Homo sapiens: one gene and its partners. The protein of the gene in region 2 purifies or fractionates together with the protein of the main gene of each other region. This does not show direct contact. Each region holds a gene or a part of one and is shown on either strand. Other genes may lie near its edges.

Evidence for each region. The genes of interacting proteins can lie anywhere in the genome.
Region 1: the proteins of ZNF644 (region 2) and RLF purify together in Homo sapiens (affinity purification with mass spectrometry, with the first as the bait; one large-scale study listed by BioGRID). This does not show direct contact.
Region 3: the proteins of ZNF644 (region 2) and ZNF280D purify together in Homo sapiens (affinity purification with mass spectrometry, with the first as the bait; one large-scale study listed by BioGRID). This does not show direct contact.
Region 4: the proteins of ZNF644 (region 2) and ACVR1B purify together in Homo sapiens (affinity purification with mass spectrometry; one large-scale study listed by BioGRID and IntAct). This does not show direct contact.

Annotation. Positions count from the first base shown.
Region 1 is NC_000001.11:40,198,908-40,202,996, reverse strand, and holds part of RLF (zinc finger protein Rlf), read right to left. Parts: intron 1,070-4,089; exon of another isoform or gene 981-1,069; intron 586-980; coding exon 383-585; intron 1-382. UniProt on the Homo sapiens protein: May be involved in transcriptional regulation.
Region 2 is NC_000001.11:90,917,714-90,921,418, forward strand, and holds part of ZNF644 (zinc finger protein 644), read right to left. Parts: intron 442-3,705; coding exon 339-441; intron 1-338.
Region 3 is NC_000015.10:56,723,400-56,727,488, reverse strand, and holds part of ZNF280D (zinc finger protein 280D), read left to right. Parts: intron 1-4,089. UniProt on the Homo sapiens protein: May function as a transcription factor.
Region 4 is NC_000012.12:51,978,720-51,982,808, reverse strand, and holds part of ACVR1B (activin receptor type-1B isoform a precursor), read right to left. Parts: intron 1,841-4,089; coding exon 1,610-1,840; intron 124-1,609; coding exon of another isoform or gene 1-123. UniProt on the Homo sapiens protein: Transmembrane serine/threonine kinase activin type-1 receptor forming an activin receptor complex with activin receptor type-2 (ACVR2A or ACVR2B).

The DNA of each region.
Region 1 (4,089 bases), about 51 Mb from region 2:
ACTTAAGCTAAAATTAAGTGCCATTTTCTTTAGTTTATCCCTTGATGCCATGATTAACAACTTCTGCATTCCCCAAACATGGAGACGTCATTACTTTAAAAAGAAAAAACAACTTTCACATTTAAAGATTTCACAGCAAATCATCACCCAAATAAGTAAACATGCCTCTGTATATTCTTTAGTTATCTACTTTTCAAATTCACTCTAAAATATTACATTCTATCTGTCGAGCAGTTAAATATACAATTAAAATCATACATTTTGGTAGCCTGAAAAAAATGAATCTTGGTTTTCATTCTAAAGGGAAAAAATAAACCATGCAATATATATATAAATCTATTAAATTAATACCAAGTTTGAATGACAACAATTATTTACTCACCTCCTTAATAGCATCTTCATTAGGGAGCATAGAACATAAACATGTGATATAGGCTTGCTGAAAAGATGACACATTTGAAATTTCTTTAGATTCTGCACATAGTTTTGATAAAGCAGTAGCCTGGGGGATGCAGTTAGATTTCAACAAATGTTTTATTCGCATTTGCAGAAAGGAAGGTCCTTCTTGTGCAATCAATTTATTGACTAGAAAAAATGAAAAATAAAACAGTTTGACAACATACCACATAACATGTCAGACTTGCTAAGATGAAAGTTTGAGATCTTTTTATTTGATTTTTAGTTAATAAAAATTTAGTTTATATAAATGAGAAGTTTACTCTGGTCTCAATATTCATCTAATAGAGATGAGAGGAAAATTAAGAAATAGTGAAATGAACTATAAGCATAAATGCAAGAAATGAAGCAAGTAACCTATGTAATATTAACAACTATCAACTGAATGCTTACGAGACATCAAGTTTTAAGCTGCATATTTTTATATACCTCTCATTTATTCTTCACACCACCACCAAGGCAAGTATTATTATCCCCAGTCTAAGGTTAGGAAAATTAATATTCACAGAAGTTAGGTAACTTGCCAAGGATTCCAAAGCCAGTGGTGCTCTTTCCTCTAAACCAGGCATTTCTCAAAGTGTGTTCCACCGACCAAAAGACCTGAGAGATAGTCCTAGAAAAAAAAAGGATTCCTTGGTCAAATCTCTGAACAGTCCTGCAATAAAGAAAACTGTTCACTTTTATTTAAAAACCCAATGTTTCCTAAACTGATTTGACCAGAGAACCCTTTTATACATATTAGTAACCTGTAAAACATGTGTTCCTGGTTCAGTACACACTTTGGAAAATGCTACTCTGAAAGCTTCAGAAGTACTGAAGCTCAGTACTTCTGAGCTGTACTGAATATTAGGCACTTGGCATTGACTGTACAGTGCTCTGGATGAGCCCTCAAATTTTTTTTTTTTTTTTTTTTTTGAGATGAAGTCTTGCTCTGTCACCCAGGCTGGAGTGCCGTGGCGCGATCTTGGCTCACTGCAAGCTCCGCCTCCCGGGTTCACGCCATTCTCCTGCCTCAGCCTCCCGAGTAGCTGGGACTACAGGTGCCCGCCACCATGCCCGGCTAATTTATTGTATTTTTAGTAGAGACGGGGTTTCACCGTTGTTAGCCAGGATGGTCTCGATCTCCTGACCTCATGATCCACCCGCCTTGGCCTCCCAAAGTGCTGGGATTACAGGCATGAGCCACCGCACCCGGCCGAGCCCTCAATTTTTGAATAGTAAATATCCAACAAGTATGTGACATCACTACATAGTATTACTTAAAGAATAGAGGTGAGAATATTGCATGTCAAGCCAAGTGGTGAGTAAACAAACTGCTTTAGGTGGTTAATCTAAAACAGTATCTCTCAGACTTGAAAGTGCCTAGATCACCTAGGGAGCTTATTAAAATGCAGATTCTGATTTATTAGGTCTGGGACCTGAAATTTTGCTTTTCTCACAAGCTCCCAGGTTGCGGGGGGGGGGGGGGGGGTGTGTGTGTGTGTGAGGTGTGGGGGGGGTGTGTGTGTTTGTGTGTGTAGAGTAGCAATGGTTTATACTAAGGATAAACCACTGGGGTGTGTGTGTGTAGAGTAGCAATGGTTTATACTAAGGATAAACCAGTGTGTGTGTGTGTGTGTGTGTGTGTGTGTGTGTGTGTGTGTGTGTGTGTGTGTGTGTGTGTGTGTGTGTGTAGAGTAGCAATGGTTTATACTAAGGATAAACCACTGGCCCAATTTTAACTACATATGAGAATCAATCGTAACATTATCCTTTAAAATAATATAAAGAAAAACATATATATATATATAATCACAGATTTCAAAAGGACAGAAAAAGCTATACAGTTAAAGTTTTTCTCCCTCCTACCCTGACCCCAGTGCTCTGGTTTCCCACCCTGAGAAACAACAAGTTTCCAATTTCTTGTTTATCCTTCCAGAAATATTCTATGAGTATGGAAGACATTTTCTTTTGCCACTTAATATATGATACAGGTTATTCTATCATCTGTGCAGTTAGAGCTATCTTCTTATTTTTAACAACTGAATAGCATTATGTGGTATGGATGTGCTATAATTTATTTAACCAATCCCCTACTGATACACTTGCAGGCTGTTTCCAATCTCTGTCAATCATCAATAATGCTGCAACTTACAACCCTATATACAGGTAATCTGAAACATGTGAATAAATCTACACAACAAATTCCTAGATGCGGAATTGCTAAATTAAAGGCTCTGTTCATTTGTAATACTGACTCATACTGCCAAACTGCTCTCCAAAAATTGTACCAATTTATATTCCCATCAGCAATATGTAAGTGCCCATTTCCTAAGGCACTTCAAAAAGTTCTGGATTCCAGAGCTCCAACTCTGGAGATTATGATTTAGCAAGTGGAGTCTGGACCTTGGGATGTATGTTTTTTGGTTTTAAATTCCATAGATACTCTAATATGTAGTCAAGGTCAAAAAGCATGGAGGGAAAACAGGTCACAATCACTTGGACTTTTCCATTTTAGTCCCACAGTTACTAAATTCCACAAGATGAACTCACGGTCATACCCTTCACTCACATAGCTCCTTATTCCCTACTTCTATTTTCAGCAATGATATTCTCTCAATTATACAACAATAAAATTTTGGAATTATCTTTCCTTGATACTTCCTTTCCTCAAGGAAATCAACTTAGTTATTATGTCCTAGTAATTCTTTTCTAATTATCTCCAATCTAAATCATGCCTATTATTTCCTGTCACGTCTCCCCTATATCCTATTCTGCCTGCCTAACATCAGATTCTGCTCTATTTACCTGCCATATGAGGTTGTAAGCAATTCTGCAAATCCAACAGGAAGCAACATACCTGATAACAGGCATATTACCTACACAACCTATCGCCTTGCAAATTCCCACAGCATTTTACTTCTTTCCCCACATTTAGTTTTCTCGAAGAACAGTGATAAGGGATTATAGTGTACAAACGTTAACATTTCAGGTTTTAGAATCACTGATCTGATGTTGAAACCTGATTCTGACACACAGCTGTGAGACCCTTGGACAAATTAACTGACCTCTCTGAGACTCAAGTTTCTTCATCTGTAAAAAGGTTATACCCATCTCACATGGATGAACAAATTAAAGAAATACTAGAAATGCAGATAAGACTCACCACAAGGCCAAACACGGAGTAAATGTTTAATAGTACTTACTATTGTCTCTGATATCTCCTTTATTACACTGTCAGCAATTTGTGAACAAATATCATGTCTTGTTAGCCTTTGTATTCCCTACAGCACTAAGCACAAGGGCTTGTATATTACGGATGTTTAATTAAACCATGCACTTAGCAACTGAAGGGTCATCACTCTCCAATCAAAAACATTTTAACGTCACCTCACCTGGGCTCAAATTCTGCCTCCACAATTGTAACTACATGGTCTTGGGTATGTGTAATCTCTCACCTGTTTCATGGATTACATGAGATATGAAAGCACAAATACAGTGCCCAACACATAGCAGGCACTCTAAAAATCATAGCTATTATTTCTATGCGGTAAGCTATTTTATTCAATAATTATAACTACAGTTAAACTGCTGCTAAATCAATTTTAACATATGGCTCAATCTTGTATTTTACAAATCATTTGAAGATATCAA
Region 2 (3,705 bases):
TCTTGAACTCCTGGCCTCAAGTGATCCACCCATCTTGGCCACCCAAAGTGCTGGAATTACAGGCATGAGCCACCACACCTGGCCAAGCTACTTTAATAAATCACAGTATAATAGATTTACATTACTATTGGCTAATGTAAAAAACTTGATTCATTAGTTGTTGAAGTACGGATATTGTGAGCTGAATTAAGATTTTAAGCCTATCTCCAAAAGTTCATTTATAACTTGATTGTTGAGAATGCACTCTGCCACAAATTAAAAATCCCAAATGAAATAGCTAATATGTTTCAAAGCAAAGTATGAAGAAACTGATCAGATTTGGCAATATAGGCATATACCTGCATCGGAGAATGTAAACCTCGTCAGCACCATGAGGTAATGTTAGCATTTTCTTCTTGCTTCCAGATCTTGACCTTGATTTCTTTTGCTTACAATCTAAGGCTAAAAAGGGGAAGAGAAAGACTTAACATTCCTTATATATTTCAAAATATACATACACACATATTTTTCTAGAGAGGTCAGACAGACCATCTAAATCAGTTAGAAAAAGTCCGCATTCATTTCCCTATTCCCTGAAGCATGCATTCAACTTGCTGATTCTGTAATAGCAGTAATATTATCTGTACTGTACAGCGGTATTATCTGTACTGAAGAATACTATCTGTATTCTTCCTATACTGCCTTTTCAAATAATGCTTTACCACACCAAACTAGAACTGAGAAAATGTAACTAAATAACTTGAAAGTACTAAATTGGTCAATTATTACAATAATGGTAATCTTTACTTTTATAATCATACATAATTTTAATATCTGGTTTAATCTTATTTCCAGAAAAGTAGAACCTTTTATTTGAGATCATTAAATTAAGTTTGCATTTGATTACTGCTCCATTAAGTAGGTCTTCTATACTTGGAAAACTTCGTAAGGGAATATGGATAATGTAATTAAAAGCTCAAGGAAAAATCAATTTTCATAGTGATTCACCATGAATTTTATAATAAATAGCTCTTAAAATTGTATGCTGGCCCTACATTTGAAAGGACAAAAAAAGCTCAACTTTCATTTTTGAACTTAATTTGTATTGCATATACAATAATCAATTATGCAATCATATAAGTTTTATTTTACTAGAAAATAAATATAAATCCATATTATCTCACGTAAGTTTACAATTGGATCTGATGTTTAATGCTAACTATTCTTTACATATTTTTCATTTTACATTTTCTCCAACTGCTTATTTTAAAATGTGATTTGAAAAGGTAAAAAAAAAAATTAAAATAGACCAAAATTTTATGTGAACTGTTCTTGAAATTTTTCCATTAATTGACTTTTCCTTTATTTATTCTAAAACAACCTGATTTTAAAAAGAAAAAAAGGTATTTTTTATAGGTAGCAATAGATAGCACATAACATTTTATAGGTCTTTGAATACAGCTACACCATTTCTTTGGACAAAGGGATGATAGCAATCCAGGGTGCTGCTGGTCAATTAGCAGGAAGAGAAGGTAAGAATTTATCTGTAGGGATCCAAGGGGGGAGGGATACAAATGTAACAGAAGAGTTACCCAAATGGCTTTTCTTCCATTATCCTGCCATGTGAAAAATTCCCTGGAAAAATTCTAAGTAAGAGAGAAGGAACTGGCTGTTCAATGACTCTGTGAAACGAATTGTTCAAAGTCCAGATTCCAAAAGAATAGATGCTACTATTACAAAACCAGTAAACATAGTTCCTTAGTCAAATGGCAATGATAACAGAAATGTCATATAGAAAATTCAAAACCACAAGAAACCTAAATCTCATTGAAGCCACTGGTTTCAGCTTCCTGTCACCTGCCTATTCAAAAGTAAAATCTAGGACACAGTCTTTTTCTGTTTATCCTTAGAAGAAGAGTCTAATAAGTAAAGAACTACTAGAAGTCAAGTTAGGTATTAAAGAATGGGTAATTCAAAGCTAAACAACCAAACTCTGGAATAGAAAAATCTTATAAGGATCTTATTAGTTATCTCAGTCAAGAGCCTCGCATGTAGTAGGAACTCAACAAATACTTCTGGAGTAAAAATAAAGCAAAACTCAGTAATTTAACCATTGATATTTAGACAGCCTATGAATGAAAATGTTTTACTCCTATTTAATACAGGTAATATTCCTGTACAACATTGTGCATCATTTGTTTAAATATGTTGCTGCAGTCACACATACTTCATTATCCTAGATATAAATCACTGACCAGCCAGCTTATGTACAGAAACTAGGTTATTCACAACAACTACAAGAGTGAAATACCTTATGCTTTGTACCCAGTAGGAAAAACCTTTTTCCTAATCGCTTTGGTGAGCAATCTGAATTTAAGTGGGTTATGAGTGATTCATACACTAGAAATAGAGTTCAGGGAACTCAAAGAGTAAGTGCTACTAGATGTCAGCTATTCTTTCCATCTGTAAAGATGGATCCTTGTCTGTGTTAGGCAGAATAGAGCAGGCATTTGGTGTATCATAAGATTACAGGTAGAATCTTACTTTGATGAGCTTGCTGGTTGTCAAAATTGCCACACTGTATTCAAACTCCTTTTAAAATGCAAATAAATTACTGTAGGATACAAATAGAATACATTATAACAACCCTTAAAAATTTGTTCACAGAATGTTAATGTTAGGGGTGTAAAGCAAATTGAGGAAGAAGGGCAGGAGGATGGTAGGGAAATATGCAAAAGAACATTTTATCAGTTACAAAAGCATTTAAATTTACATGTTGTTAATATTTTAAAAATGGAACTGGAAATGTTTATTCTAAAATACAGAAATATTTTTGGCTTTTTCTTTAATAGGGAAAAAAGAATTATTTTATGGCTTTTGATGCTTTATGGACTGTGGAAACTCTTAAGTTTAGGCTGTTTTATGAATGATCAGATCTAAACTTGAAATGAGAATGCCATCATTTTTGTAGCAATGAGTATTTGAAGGTATTATAACCTTGGAAAGCAGGACAACTCTGCCAGCTTATGACTGATCAATCATCTCTAGAACCCAGGGCTCCAAAGTTAAGGTTACAGAATCTCATGCACTGAGAATCCCTAGAAACTTATTCACAAAGTTAAAATATTAAAAATCTGGGAACTTTGGAAATTGAAATCTAAATGCCTCAGTGTTTTAATATCTTCATCAATTCTAGATTTATTATCTCCTGAAATGTTATATTTTTGAGCAGGTGAAACATGAACATATTTTACAATAGTTTTTCTAATGCCAATATCCAAACCCACTCCTGTGATACTGCCCATACCTTTGGGAAAATCTGTTTAAAATTGAGTATTTAACATATTAAAACTGCACAAAAAGGGGACATCTATATAGGATCCTCTACATAAAAGGATGATTTACACAGAAAATTTCAATAAATGAAAAGGATGAGGTAGAAACATGTCTGTTATACCAATATTCTCACTTAAGAGATTTTATTATATCTAGAGGGAAAAGTAGTTTTGTTCTGGACTGTACCAGGAGCCACTAGAACATTAAATACAGATCACTAACACATTCAGTTTTAATATAATGCAGCTCATCAGTATCTGTGATAAACAGCCAAAGCTTTAACAGAGTTGTTTATATGAATAATCTGCCAAATAGATAACTGTTACACAAAGCCTTTTTTTGTAATAGGATTTTATTTGCACTTGTTAGTGACCAAAAAACTCCAAGGAA
Region 3 (4,089 bases), on a different chromosome or scaffold from region 2:
TTTCTATCTTTTTTCTTTTTTTTCTTTTTGAGACCGTGTCTTGCTCTTGTTGTCCAGGCTGGAATGCAATGGCGTGATCTCAGCTCACTGCAGCCTCCACTTCCCGGGTTCAAGTGATTCTCCTGCCTCAGCCTCCCGAGTAGCTGGAACTACAGGCGTGCGCCACCATGCCTGACTAATTTTGTATTTTTAGTAGAGACGGGGTTTTGCCATGTTGGCCAGGCTGGTCTCGAACTCCTGACCTCAGGTGACCCACCTCCCAAAGTGCTGGGATTACAGGCATGAGCCACCACGCCCAGCCAGTTTCCTTCTTATAACAGGGAGGGAAGAGCAACTCTTTTCCCTTGAGATTGAGAGTCAAGGCAGAGATGAGTTTGTATAAACAAATTTTACTAAAATAACCGTTATTTTCCATTAGTTCTCCCATTTTTTCTAGTCACTTTCCCATGGTTTATTGTCCCTGAAATTCCAAGTTCCCTTTTTTGGGGGGGTTAAAATAGTATAAAAGCCTCTACGTCTAACCACTTGTTTGAGTTTCACTTCTTTTCTGTGAACTCCTGTGCATGTCAATATTAATAAAAATTGTATGCTTCTTCTCTTGTGAATCTGTCTTTTCATAGTTTAATTCACAGGCCATGAGATACTGAACCAAAGGTGATAGAGGAATTGTTTTCCCTCTCTGACATAGACTACAAAAATGTCTTCAGTTTTCCATATGTCTTTGAAAATTGATGCAATATTTTTGCAAAACTATAAGAAAACTGGAAAATAAATGAGAACAATTAAGGCTAATGCATTAGTCATGATTTATTTCACTGTTGTATTATTCTTTTAGGCAGTCCTATTATTTTTTTAGCATAGTTGGGATTAATTGATGAACAATGGTGAAATAATACCTAGAATGATGGAGTTAGCAAAATATTTCAAGATGTAGGAAAAATAAAGCCACTAACATCCCATAATGTATTTTAGATTGATAAAAGGATTCTGTTATAGACCCACATAATAATTATAAGATATAATGAGTTTTAATCTATTTTAAAGTAGTAAGTAAATTTTCCCTTCTTTGTTTAAAGATCTCTAGGAAACAATGTGAATAATGTCAGTCTTTCTAAAAAGAACTGCTCAAGAAAGAAAGTAAAAAACTAGTTTCCTTTGGACTCTGATAGTATACTGGACTTTAATGGTTAATTTGGACAGTTAGAGTTCCACCCCTCTCCAATACACACATTAAACCTACCTGCCTCTTCTACTTCCATAATAGGTTTTTTTTTTTAGCCTGTTGTACTTTAATACATCTCTAATGAATACAGGCAGTACCTAGAAAGTTGTTCCTTGAGGTTTCTGTTCTAAAGTTTTTTTGTTGTTACCAGTTTTTTTTTCTTAAACCTTTCTTCCAAGCTTTACCTTCAGAGACCCTTCATAATAAAAAATTATTAATTGGAACCCTGGCACATCAGGCCAACGTTGTATTTAGGCTTTTTGCTTAAATGGATTACACCAAAAAATATTTCAGTCATTTTCATTGCAAACATTCCTGTTTTTCTGGTTTTATATAACAGGATGAAGACAAAGTAATTTTTGGGATGATGTATGCCTTGTTTCTTTGTGTTTGTAAACACAATGCCTTACACATAATTAATGTTCGATAAATACTTAGTTTTTTTTTTTAATCACCTGAATATTCCCCAACAGTTTAAAATTATTGCTTTACTTTTTGGATTGGTATGTAACTTACAAATTTTTGACCAGCTAGCATAGTAATTTAGCTTTCTTTTTTAAAAAGGGCTTTGACTTGTGTTTATCTAGTACAGTAGTTCTCTAAATGTGGTCTTGGGCTTGAGACTCTTTGAAGGATTCTACTAGGTCCTCCCTTTACCACATACTTTTCCTGTGAAGCTGTATTTTCTTCAACAGAAGAGTGTAGTGCAACAGGTTGAATGCAGAAGGTCGTAAGAGAATCCAGCTGTCTTTATTAAGACAATGAGGTATGCAAAAATGTAGCAAAAATGTAAAACAATACCACTCTTTAAATTTTTTGTTTTGAGAAATACACTTTTTTTGTAAAAATATATTAATATGTGCTGCTTTCATTATTATCATCTTTAAGTAAATGAATACATATTGAAAAAAATTTCTCAGGTTTGGGGTTTCTGGACTCCCAGGCAAAGATTCCATCCTTAAAGTTTAGTCAACCACACATCTTTTTTTGATCAGGTTTGGGATTTTTTTTTTTAACATTATTAACTGAATGCCTTTGAGTTGATACGCATTTTGACTAGGGCTAGTAACCAAAGCAAAGATGATCAGTCTATGAACTAATTTGCCCTTTGCTTCTAGGCTTCACTCCTGTGCGTTCCTTATTTTGTGGGTTACCTTTGGCAAATCTAAGAAGCTAAGCCTGGAGGGGCTTGAGAGAGGCCTGGGGGTTTTAGGTATAATCCTAATCTCTGTCGTATCTCTTGCTTTTTTTACTTGCTCTGCTTTTCCTATTCAAGGTTTAAGATTATCTGACTCTCAGCTATACAGGATTGCTGACTGCTGCTAGAAAGGCCTTCATAACCAAAATGCAACATGGAAATAGCTTTCTTACATTCCATGAGAAAAAAAATAGATCTGACAACGTTATTGAATAGAAAAAGGTAAATAAGAAAATTGGCACTACTTCAGTGACACTACATTGTAGTGTCTGTTCATTTGAGAAGTTATACACAACAGATGTCTTTCTATTCTTTGATTTCTTTTATTGTAGTGTTTTAGAGATTATAAAGTATGTTCACAGTTACCGTATTCCATCATCAGAACAAATACTTCTTTGCAAAAGGCGGTGTTATCATCCTTTACAGATGAGGAAATCAAGTCTTAGAAAAAGTTCATTTTATTCATTGGAATAACACTGGGTGCCAGATATTGTGTATTCATTTTATAAGATACGATGCCTTGGTTTTCCCTCACTTCACCGTCAGCCTTTTTATCTCAGAATTACATGTTCTCTTCTATTTGGGCTATACAATGCAGGTGAGCCTTACAGGCAGGCAGTGACAACAACTGTTAGAAGTGTTGCCTCCTTAGAGCATTTGACCTGTTCTGCACCTCACTGCACCTGGAAGCTTTTAACACTAGGATAACCTAACCGAGCTCTGCTTAGGTTGGAAAGTTATTAAACAATTTGGAATTGGTAAATGACAGAATGAAAGCATTATTTTAGTAAATTGTTAATTTGGGGGCTCTTTATTGAAGAGATGAAAGCAAAAATCTGGATGCTGAGAGACCAAGTACAGACAGTCCCCAGCTTAAGATGGTTTAACTTAAGTTTTTTTGACTTTATGATGGTGTGACAGCAATATACATTTAGTAGAAACTGTACTTCAAGTTTTGAATTTTGATCTTTTTCCGGGCTAGTGATATGTGGTATGATACCATATTGTGATACTAGGCAGCAACAGCAAGTTGCAGCTACCAGTCAGCCACATGATCATGAGGGTAAACAACTGATAACATACAGTATACTGTGTTGTCAGATGATTTTGCCCAACCACAGGCTAATGTAAAGGGTTCTGAGCACGTTTAAGGTAAGTTAGACTAAGCTGTGATGTTCGGTAGGTTAGGTGTATTGAATGCATTTTCAACTTACGATATTTTCAGCTAATGATGGGTTTAATCATTACCCCATCACAAGCTGAAGAGCAACTATATAAAGTGAATCTTATAAAGTAAATCTATTTCACTTTAGGTGTGAGGTTCTATGGGCGTGGTCAAGTATTGAGTGGATGGAGAGGCAAGGATGGTGTGGGAAATATTTTGAAGGAAGTCTATAGGGTTGGGGAATTGACTAGATATAATTAAAAGAGGGAGACATTGAAAAAAACCTCCAGGGATTCAAGATCAGAAGGATGGCAGTTTAGTAGAAAAAGGGAAATGCAAAAGTAAAACTAACTTTTATAATTTAAGGTAAGATTCATATAATTTCACCATTTAAAAATATACGGTTCACTGGCATTTAGTACATTCATAGTGTTGTACAACTGTCAACACTAATTCCATAATATTTTCAGCTCCTCAAAAGGAAACCTGTTACCCATTATTCTG
Region 4 (4,089 bases), on a different chromosome or scaffold from region 2:
TCAGTGGGAATAAAAATCTTGCTCTTCCCCTTCCTCCCTTGTATTGGAGTCTAAGGCTCCTCAGCTTGGGGGCAGCAGAGACCATTACAACTTCCCATGGCAATGTGAGGAATGAGCAGTCTGCTGTTGTTTCAGGAATGAAAAACAAATAGCATCTTCTGTAGGCTTTGTAGACACTAACTTCTAAATTGCACCATGCCACAGGAGCAAGTCATGTCACAACTGCTAGAGAGACCCTTCCACAATGTGAACCAGCCACTCACAGCATCCTCTCTGTGCTCCGGGTGCCACTACCTGTCCACGTGTCTGTCCCCTTCTTCCTGGGAGCTCTGTGAGGGGAGGGACTGTGTCTTGCTCTTATGTGTGATGGTCCAAGCAGCCAGCAGAGGTCTGGCCCACAGCAGTCAATAAATGTTATAGAATTAATGAATGAAATTTTAATTACTACCCACTATCTTCAGAATGGAATACAATCCTCTCAAAAAGGCCCCTCATAATCTGGCCTCTGCCTCCCTCTCCACCCACAGCCATCCAAGTTACTTGCTGGGCCCCAAACCTCACCTTTGCACATGTCTGCAGTGCTCTTCCCTGCAAGGAAGATTTTTCTTCCTGACCAGTTCTTGCCACCTTTGTCTCAACTGGGCTCAGGTGCGAGTCAGCCCCAATTTGTGCTCAACAGAACAACTCGTGTTTACCTCCTCTAATCACCCTTACTCGTCATCCTTTGCTAGTCAATGAGGTCCTCAAACATAGGGAGGTGCCTGGCACATAAGAGATTCAAAAACTAAAGCAATAAAAGGGAGAGGAAGAAGGAAAGAATCCTCAGGGACAGGACTGACCAAGAGCAGAGTCCGAAGGCGACACTTCGTGGACTACAGGCTTTTCTGTCGTTATCCTCCTTGCCAGGGTTGAGGCCGCAATTCCTCATCCTAGGGATTTTTTTTTTCTTTTTTTTTTTTTGAGACGGAGTCTCGCTCTGTCGCCCAGGCTGGAGTGCAGTGGCGCGACCTCAGCTCACTGCAACCTCCAGCTCACTGCAACCTCCGCCTCCTGGGTTCAAGCAATTCTCCTGCCTCAGCCTCCTGAATAGCTGGGATTACAGGTAGGTGTCACCGTGGCCAGCTCATTTTTGTATTTTTAGTAGAGATGGGGTTTTGCCATGTTGGCCAGGCTGGTCACAAACTCCTGACCTCAAGTGATCTGCCTGCCTCGGCCTCCCAAAGTGCTGGCATTACATGCGTGAGCCACCGCGCCCAGCCCATCCTAGTGATTTTCAAAATAAGCTTACGGGACCCCCTGCAGGAACTACAATGGAGGTGGGTTTGGGGGAGTGGAGAAAGAGAAATTGAGCAGGTAGGGTGAGGGGGTGTATCTTGTTTATCTGAGTAAGAACTGCTTGTTTATTTGCTTGATAACCTGGATTTTTGTATAACCTTTTCATGGAATAAAAGGCTCCACACTTTAAGGAAAGCATGGAAACCTTGACCTTACTCAAGTTTTCTTTCTACGGGTTACAATGATGAAGGCAAACAGAGCTGTGCACCCCATAGCTATGCACTTTCTCTAGCATCCTCTATCTGGGAATGCTGTATCCAAGCCCAGCCCTTACCTTTATTGTCAGCAGCAATAAATCCAAGGATGTTTTCATGGCGCAGCATGACCGTCTGGTATATCTCTGCTTCCCTGAACCAAGACCGTTCTTCACGAGAAGAGAATATTTTCACAGCCACATCACCACCCCTCCAGCGGCCCCGCCATACTTCCCCAAACCGACCCTTGCCAATAATCTCTTGTAAAACGATGGTTCGGGCCACTGTGCGCTGGACAAAGAGGGGTAACCCTGTGAACCAAAGAATAGGAAGAAACCTGACATTGCAAATTTGACAAATTTTCCAACTCCCACACTAATTGGCACAACGGAAACACCCTTAACATGGTGTCTTCATCCTACGCTGTCCATTAACCATGGAGAGCTGCTGCTGCCCATACACATTTCTAGGTAATCTACCAGAGGGCTGAGCCAGGCGGAGAGATGGGGAAAGAGTGAACACAAACAGGAAACGTGTATGATTAGCTACTCCTTATCTAGGCAATTTCTCCTCTCAGTAAGCACGGATGATAGATTTGAATGTAAATGTTTGACCAGATTTACCAACTCTTCAGCCAGCCACCTGTGGGCCGATCCACCCACATCTGCTTTATTTTGGTGGAGGAAGGAAAGAGGGCAGAGAACATGAAAGTGTGGGCTCATGTGCTGGGGGCCACCTTCTGGCTGTTCTGCTTATTAGCCACTAGAGGGCAGTGCTGTGCGGCCCATGGGTTCCCATCTCCAAAGAGAGCAATGCTCTGCTCACAAGCGAACTCCAGATGTAGAATGGAGGACCATCTATGTTTAGTCTAAGATTAACTTTACTGTCTTTATAAAACTCAACATTGCTTCATTTGACTCATTCAATGTATCTCTATATATCCAATCACCCTTACCATCACAAGTGACTCTTAACTGTCTTACTCCCACCCCCAATCAAATAATTAATACATTATTAATCCCTAGGTCTGGTAGATGGGAACTACCATTTACTGCATGCTTACTATGTATTAGGCTCCATGCTAAGGGCTTTACATAAATTATCTCACTTCCCCAAACCACCTGGAAGGTAAGGCGCTGTTATCATCCCCATTTTATAAACAAGAAAACTAAGGCTCAAAGAGGAGGTTATGTAATATTCAAATTCATACAAGCAGTAAGTGGCAAAGCAGGGCTTAAAATCTAGGACTGTCTGACTCTATAATCTATGCTTTTAATGACAACAGTATAGAACCACCAAAATGTTTCTCAAATTAGCCCCCGCCTCTCCATCTCCGTCCGCCTGTCCTACTTTTGGACCTTCTCTAAAAGACTTCCAACAGGTCTTTTGCCTCCCATCTCAGCCTGCTCTTGCCCTGTGCACCCACACACACCCCGCCTCACCCCACCCTTCCCAACAGAAGGCTGGTAGTGAATGAATTCATCCTCCACACCACTGCCAGAATTCCTTCCAAAGGAAAAAATGAACATTCATTTCCCACATGGAAACTTTCAGTAGAAGCCCCTTACCTAGAAGATAAAGGTCAGCCCTCAAGATCCTGTACACCTGGGGCAGCCTGACGTCCCCCTGCTTCCCCAGCACAAGCACATCATGCTGGTCTCCTCATCATAAAAGTTCTTTAAACATACAGTGGACCTTCATGCCTTTGTCTTTTTACTCAAGGTATTTTCATTGGCCTGGAATGTTCTTTGCCCTCTCGCCTCTCTTAAAAATTCCAACTCATTCTTCAAGACTCCTTTTTTTTTTTTTTTTTGAGATGGTGTCTCGCTCTGTCACCCAGGCTGGAATGCAATGGTATGATTTCGGCTCACTGCAACCTCCACCTCCTAGGTTCATGTGATTCTCCTGCCTCAGCCTTCTGAGTAGCTGGGATTACAGGTGCCCGCCACCACACCCAGATAATTTTTGTATTTTTAGTAGAGATGGGGGTTTCATCATGTTGGTCAGGCTGGTCTCGAACTCCTGACCTGAGGTGATCTACCCGCCTCGGCCTCCCAAAGTGCTGGGATTACAGGTGTGAGCCACCGTGCCTGGCCTTTTTTTTTTTTTTTTTTTTGAGACGGAGCTTTGCTCTTGCTGCCCAGGCTGGAGTGCAATGGCATGATCTGGGCTCACTGCAACCTCTGCCTCCCGGGTTCAAGCAATTCTCCTGCCTCAGCTTCCCAAGTAGCTGGAATTATAGGCGTGTGCCACTACACCCGGCTAATTTTTTGTATTTAGTAGAGACGAGGTTTCACCATGTTAGTCAGGCTGGTCTCAAACTTTTGACCTCATGTGATCTGCCCGGCCTCAAGACTCCTTTAAATGTGCCCTCCTCTGTGAGACTCTTCCCAACAATTCCTGTCTCTCTGATCCAATCCTGGGTCAGCCTTTTTTTTTTTTTTTTTTTTGAGACGGAGTCTCGCTCTGTTGCCCAGGCTGGAGTGCAGTGGCGTGATCTCGGCTCACTGCAAGCTCCGCCTCCCAGGTTCACACCATTCTCCTGCCTCAGCCTCTTGAG